2 linked regions of the Homo sapiens genome follow. The protein of the gene in region 2 purifies or fractionates together with the protein of the main gene of each other region. This does not show direct contact. Each region holds a gene or a part of one and is shown on either strand. Other genes may lie near its edges.

Region 1 (3,500 bases), on a different chromosome or scaffold from region 2:
CCACTTCAGCCTCCTGAATAACTGGGTCTACAGGTCTATGCCACTATACTGGCTAATTTTTTATTTTTTTTGTAGAGACAGGGTCTCCCTATGTTGCCCAGGCTGGTCTCGACCTCCCTGGCTCAAGTGATCCTCTTGCCTCAGCCTCCCAAGTAGCTGAAACTATAGGCATGCACCAGCCACCATGCCCAGATGACTTTTGTATATTTTGTAGAGATGGGGTCTCATTATGTCGCCAGGGCTGGTCTCAAATGCCTGGGCTCAAGTGATCCTCCCACCTCGGCCTCCCAAAGTGCTGAGATTACAGGCGTGAGCCACCATGCCCGGCCTCTTTCTCCTCTTTATTTCCCTCAAGAGCATCAAAACAAGTTGCTCCACTTCTTATCATGTGACATTGTTTCTCTAGGTGACAGCATCAGCATGCTCCTGCATTAGCAATATAACAATGTAACTTGATTACCTCTGTTAAGAAAAAAATAATAATACAACAATGATAAGAATGATAGTTAATATTGGTTGAGTGATCACTGTGTACCAGGCACCACTCTAACAGCTTTATATATAATAAACCCAGTACCAGTAGTACCGCAGCTTAGCAGATGAGGAAATGGAGGCACAGAGGAGTCACTGTCTAAGGTCCCGCAGTTAGTAAACGGTGGAACCACGATCAGAAATCACAAGATCTGTGCTCTTCTCTCTACATGATTTTTGCTTCTGAGTATACACATCACATCATTCATTCATTATTTATTACTAGTCAAGGAAGGATGCCCTTTTCTCCTCTGGCAAAGCAGCTGCAGCCACTGGCCTGTCTCACCCGGACCGAAGCACTCACGCCCTTGCAGCTGCCTTCTTGGGTCTGTTCCTGGCTGCCCCCTTGGGTCTGTTCCTGGCTGCCCCCTTCTGTTTTGGTCCGTCTACATAGCAGCTTTTGTGGTTTCCCTGCTGAAAACCCTCCCATGACAGTTCTGATCACGTAAACCTAACCCGATGGCGCCCTGCCTATCCACTAACTCCAGGACCCGACATTCCCTCCTGTTCACTCTTCTCCAGCCACAAAAGCCTGCGTGCTGGGCTTGTACCAAAGCTGCTTCGTTTCCACATTGGATAGCTCTTTTCTCAGCCACTACAATGGCTGGCTCCTTCCTATGAAACAAATGTCACCTCCTCAGGGAGGCCTTTCCTGCCACCCAATCAAAAATCACCTTCAGATCTTCCTTCTGGTACCTACAGTTCTTCTCATGTCATTTACTTTGCTCTATTTTCTTCACTGATTATACAACTGTCTAAAATCATGTATTTATATGTCTACTTGTTTATTCTGTGGAACATGGGCTCCACAAAAGCAGGAAGCTCGTCTACCTTGTTCAATACTGTACCCCCACTCCTAGAACAGTGCCTGGTAGGTGCTGACTAAATCTGGGTCAGATGAATGAATTTGACAAACAGCGAAAAGCAGTCTGTAGGAATCCTACCTGCATCTGTGCTTTCTTCATATTGGCATTGACGACAGCCGCCATGTAACTGAGAGCAGCCTCACGGGTTTCGCCATTTAACAAAATACTATGCAGAATCTTAAAAAGCTCTTGCTGAAATTTATTTTTAAAAAGAAGAAACAAATTAAAACTATTTTGCACATGATTCCTTTTTGACTTCACGAACAGCTAGCCTACTTCCCACGTTCTCTCCTCTCCCACTTCTACTCATTTTAGAAGAGCCTGAGTGAAAGAATATAAGAAATATCCACATCCAACTATGTCAAAGTAATGAGCATGAAAGCAGAATATGGAGTGGGGGAGGTAGGCAGTTACAGTTTTTTGTTTTTTTTTGAGACAGAGTCTAGCTCTGTTGCCAGGCTGGAGTGCAGTGGTGCAATCTCAGCTCACTGCAACCTGCGCCTCCCAGGTTCAAGCCATTCTCCTGCCTCAGCCTCCCGAGTAGTTGGGATTACAGGCACACGCCGCCACACCCAGCTAGTTTTTGCATTTTTGTTGTTTTTTTTTTTGAGACGGAGTTTTGCTCTTATTGCCCAGGCTAAAGTGCAGTGGCACATCTCGGCTCAGTGCAACCTCCGCCTCCCGGTTTCAAGCGATTCTCCTGCCTCAGCCTCCCAAGTCGCTGGGATTACAGGCACCCGCCACCATGCCCAGCTAATTTTTTTTGTATTTTAGTAGAGATGGGGTTTCACCATGTTGGTCAGGCTGGTCTCAAACTGCTGACCTCGTGATCCACCTGCCTTGGCCAATTTTTGTATTTTTAGCAGTGACGAGGTTTCACCATGTTGGCCAGGATGACTTCCTGACCTCGTGATCAGCCCATCTCAGCCTCCCAAAGTGTTGGGATTACAGGCATTAGCCAACACGCCCAGCCGGCAGTTACAGTTTTAATAAAATAGGCTTTGTTACTTCTTTCCCATGATCAAAATTACCTTAGTTACCCAAGCCTGTAACTTCTTTGCCTGTTTCTTTTTTTTGAGATGGAGTCTTGCTCTGTCGCCCAGGCTGATGTGCAGTGGCGTGATCTTGGCTCACTGCAACCTCCACCTCCTGGGTTCAAGTGATCCTTGTGCCTCAGCCTCCCGAGTAGCTAGGTAGCTGGGATTACAGGCACGCGCTGCCATGCCTGGCTAATTTTTGTATTTTTAGTAGAGACGGGGTTTCGTCATGTTGGCCAGGCTGTTCTCAAACTCCTGACCTCAGGTGATCCACCCCACTCGGCCTCCCAAAGTGTTGGGATTACAGGCATGAGCCATCACACCCGGCCCTTCTCTGCCTTTAAGTTTGAGAATTGAAGACATATTAATCTGCATTTGGGATAAGCAAGTCAGTGAGGGTGTGTGCAAACTAACAATCCTTGCTCACCCTCACAGTGTAAATGCCTAAGGGCCAGCTGGAGGAGGAGCCGGGCCACTAAGCTTAGGACCAGTTCCCAGTGATGCTACATACAAAGGCAGCATACTGCTGTTGTTACAACCTGTTATTCAAGACACAGGCTACTTACTTATAGTTTATCTTTTTTATGTAAGATCGAATTGGCTTTTGTTAGCCGTTTGTCTACTGGGCATAGTCCAGTCTACAAAATAAAAGCTCTGTATCTGGAGCTCATCTTTGATACTTCCTCTGGATTTGTTTTCTGAACACTTACCCTTCCGAGCTCTAAGTAATGCTGCAATGATTGGCTAACCACACGAGTGTTTTCCAGGGTAATGGCAGGCCCTGAGAAGTATTTTTCAACCACTTTAACCTGGAAAGAGAAGGAAAAAATGCAGTCAACATATAATGCACATTTGGGAAAGAATCTGAATAAAAGGGCAGCAAAGTACAAGTAGCCACTATACTTACATCATCTTCTGCAAAGACTGAGAAGCTAAAGAAAGCCCCTAAGTAAGAGAGTCTCTGCAGCTCCCGCCCACAGCCAGGACTTAAGGATTTCGGCAACCACAACCGCAAAGAAGCAACCTAGGCAGAAGATGGAAGAGCCAGTCAAGCCGCTGAACAGGC
Region 2 (3,500 bases):
ATGAGTGTTTATTACATTACTTCGACTTTTCTTTTTTTTTTTTTTTTGAGACGGAGTTTCGCTGTTGTTGCCCAGGCTAGAATGCAACGGCATGATCTCAGCTCACTGCAACCTCCACCTCCTGGATTCAAGCAATTCTCTTGCCTCAGCCTCCCAAGTAGCTGGGATTACAGGCATGTGCCACCATGCCCAGCTAATTTTGTATTTTTAGTAGAGACAGGGTTTCTCCATATTGTTCAGGCTGGTCTGGAACTCCTGAACTCAGGTGATCTGACTGCCTCAGGCCTCCCAAAGTGCTGGGATTACAGGCGTGAGCCACCACACCCAGCCTACTTTGACTTTTCTATAGGCCTGACTTTTTTTCTAATAACAATTTAGGGGAAGAAATTAATTTTTTTTCTATTTTTTTATTTTTTTTGAGACAGACTTTCGCTCTTGTCACCCAGGCTGGAGTGCAGTGGTGCGATTCCGGCTCACTGCAACCTCCACCTCCCAGGTTCAAGTGATTCTCCCGCCTCAGCCTCCTGAGTAGCTCAGACTACAGGTGCCCACCACCACGCCCAGCTATTTTTTGCAGACATGGGGTTTCACCCTGTTGGCCAGGCTGGTCTTGAACTCCTAACTTTGGGTGATCTTCCTGCCTCGGCCTCCCAAAGTGCTAGGATTACAGGCATTAGTCACTGTACCTGGCTGAAATTCATAATTTTTGCTGTGGCCTTTACCTCTCTACTTGACCCAGCCTCTGGTCACATCTCTGATCTCCCTGCCCTCCATATACCTCAGTGTTCACCATACTTCTACCATAAGGGCAGTTTCTGTCTTTCAACTCATGAGTCCACCTCAGGGCTCCTGTTCTTGGCGCTCGCTCTGCTCGGAGTGCTCTTCACCTGCTGCCTCTTTCCTCATTCACATCTCGGGAGGCCTTTCCCAGCCATCCTAATTCAGGTAGCATCCCCACCCCACCCCAGTTGCCCAGTTTTATTTTTGCATCATAATACCTGACGTCATATCATTCATTTCTAGCTTTCTTGGGTAACTGTTTCACCTCTGCTAGAAGATCCTGGAGGGCAATCACCTTGTCTGTTTAATTAATCACTCTCTAGTGTCTGGAACAGTGCCCAGCACAATAAATGCTTGTTGAAGGAATGCATGAATATATGCTGATAACTAACATCTGCACCTTCAGCACAACTCTTGAACACCACCTCATATCATTCAACCTCCTCACTGGGTTCTGCCACAGGTGCCTCACTTCATGCATTTTTGTATGTTTGGTGAGATTTTGAAGGTATATTAAGAGAGTATTAGAAAAATCAAGAATGCCTGAATTCTGCCCTGCCAATCATCCCCTTCCCAGAGAAAACCTCAAGGGTGGTTCAAGGAACAAGTAGAAAATAAGGTACCACTTTATTACTAGCTGAAATAGTGCCTGATATCTTGATGCAGAGCATTCTGGTAAAGTGGATTGGAGACTGTGGCTTAGGCTTGCACCACAAGCAAAAGCTTGAGCACAAACCAAATTTCAGGATCTCTGCTATTCTCTACTGGACACATGGCCCATGATAAAAGGCATGAGAAGAATAGAGCCAAGCCTGGTGGCTGGGCCCACCTTGAGAAGGATGGCTGTGGCCCTCAACTGCATGGCTGGGTGGAAGAGGAAGAAAAAAAGAACCCAACCAAAAAACTTGACTTTTGTTTTTTAAACGGAGTCTTGCTCTATCGCCCAGACTAGAGTGCAGTGGCATCATCTCCTCGGCTCACTGCAACCTTCGCCTCCTGGGTTCAAGCAATTCTTCTGCCTCAGCCTCCCAAGTAGCTGGGACTACAGGCACACACCACCATGCCCGGCTAATTTTTGTTTTTTTATTAGAGACGGGGTTTCACCATGTTGGCCAGGCTGGTCTAAAACCCCTGACCTCGTGATCCACCTGCCTCGGCCTCCCAAAGTGCTGGAATTACAGGCATGAGCCACCCCGCTCAACCAAACTTGACTTTTAAAGCACAGGAAAATGTAACCAATCAAATTAACATTGTTCTTTCAGGAAAGAACAAGAAGGGAGGTTTTCCTAGGCTGGGAAGAGAAGCTCAGTGTTCCCTTCCCCCGGCAGAGACCTACAACCATCCCCCTAAGACCCCGTCACCTTTTGCATTCCTCATCTTAGGGACCGTACCACACTTCACCAGCTGTCCAAGCCAGAAACGTTGGCATAACAAAGTTTCCCTCTTCCTCAACTCTCATGTTCACACTGATTTCACTTCCTAAGAAGGTTTTGACTTCATCCATACTGCCTTAGCCCCGCTCCAGTTCAGGCCACAGCATTTCTGGCTCATCCCCATCAAATGCATCTTGCACATTGTGCAGGTAGACTACTCATTCTGAGTAATGCAAAATTGGTCACCCACTGCCTTGCTGCAAACTCTTCAGAGACTGCCCTTTTCTCTGAGAGTAAAGTTCATACTCTTTAAAGGCTTACAAGGCCTGGTAACATCACGGCCCTGCTCACTTTCCCAACATTGTCTCTTACTATCTCCTACAAACAGGTCCATGTTCCAGCCACACTGAACTTAAGTTCTTCAAACTCCACCCTCATTGTTGCCTTGCTGTGCCATTCCTCTACCTCTTTCTCTACCTTCTCTTCATCCTTCAGATCTCAGCAATTAGAGACATCACATCTTTATCTGAGAACTGCCCTGTGCAGATACTTGCTGAAGTCTAACCTAGCAGTCCCAACTTTGATGGCCATGCCTACCTATGTTCTCATGACAGCCTGAGCCTCCTAGCGTGGGCATTTACCCCACTGTATTGCAATTGCCTCTTTCCTTGTCTAACTTTCCCACTCAGATGTGAAATTCCTTAGAGCAGAGACCCATTCTTTCTAAGTAATGGTTCTAGTCCTATGGTCTGACCAGAGTACATTTAATGAATACAAGAACAGCAAAAAATATTCAACGTATCTTCCTTGTTTATTTGACTTTTGGCTCTAATAATAAGGTCTCTCTTGCAGGCAACCAAGTTGTTAAAAGCCTTGAAAGGCTACATTAAACATGAGGCAAGAAAAGGAAATGAGAATCAGGTGAGTAATGTTTTTCATGTTTACCTGTTAGCTAGCAAAATAATCATATTTGGTTAATGGGCAATTAACACACAACTAGTGATGATTTAAGACATGCTGTTGGCCAGGTGTTGTGGCTCACGCCTATACTCCTAGCACTTTGGTAGGCAGTGGCAGGCGGATCACTTGAGTCCAGGAGTTCGAGACCAGCCTGGCCAACATGGTGAAACCCCGTCTCTACTAAAAATACAAAAATTAGCCAGATGTGGTGGCGGGAGCCTGTAATCCCAGCTACTCAGGAGGCTGAGACAGGGAGAATTGCTTGAACCCGGGAGGTGGAGGTTGCAGTGAGCCAGGATCGCGCCACTGTACTCCAGCCTGGGTGACAGAGCAAGACTCCGTTCAAAAAACAAAAAAAAAGATATGCTGTTTATTAAAAAAGAGATC

What was found. The genes of interacting proteins can lie anywhere in the genome.
Region 1: the proteins of NUSAP1 (region 2) and UBE4B fractionate together in Homo sapiens (co-fractionation; one large-scale study listed by BioGRID). This does not show direct contact.

What each region holds. Positions count from the first base shown.
Region 1 is NC_000001.11:10,130,458-10,133,957, reverse strand, and holds part of UBE4B (ubiquitin conjugation factor E4 B), read right to left. Parts: intron 3,459-3,500; coding exon 3,342-3,458; intron 3,244-3,341; coding exon 3,145-3,243; intron 1,590-3,144; coding exon 1,476-1,589; intron 1-1,475. UniProt on the Homo sapiens protein: Ubiquitin-protein ligase that probably functions as an E3 ligase in conjunction with specific E1 and E2 ligases. May also function as an E4 ligase mediating the assembly of polyubiquitin chains on substrates ubiquitinated by another E3 ubiquitin ligase.
Region 2 is NC_000015.10:41,339,381-41,342,880, forward strand, and holds part of NUSAP1 (nucleolar and spindle-associated protein 1), read left to right. Parts: intron 1-3,005; coding exon 3,006-3,074; intron 3,075-3,500. UniProt on the Homo sapiens protein: Microtubule-associated protein with the capacity to bundle and stabilize microtubules. May associate with chromosomes and promote the organization of mitotic spindle microtubules around them.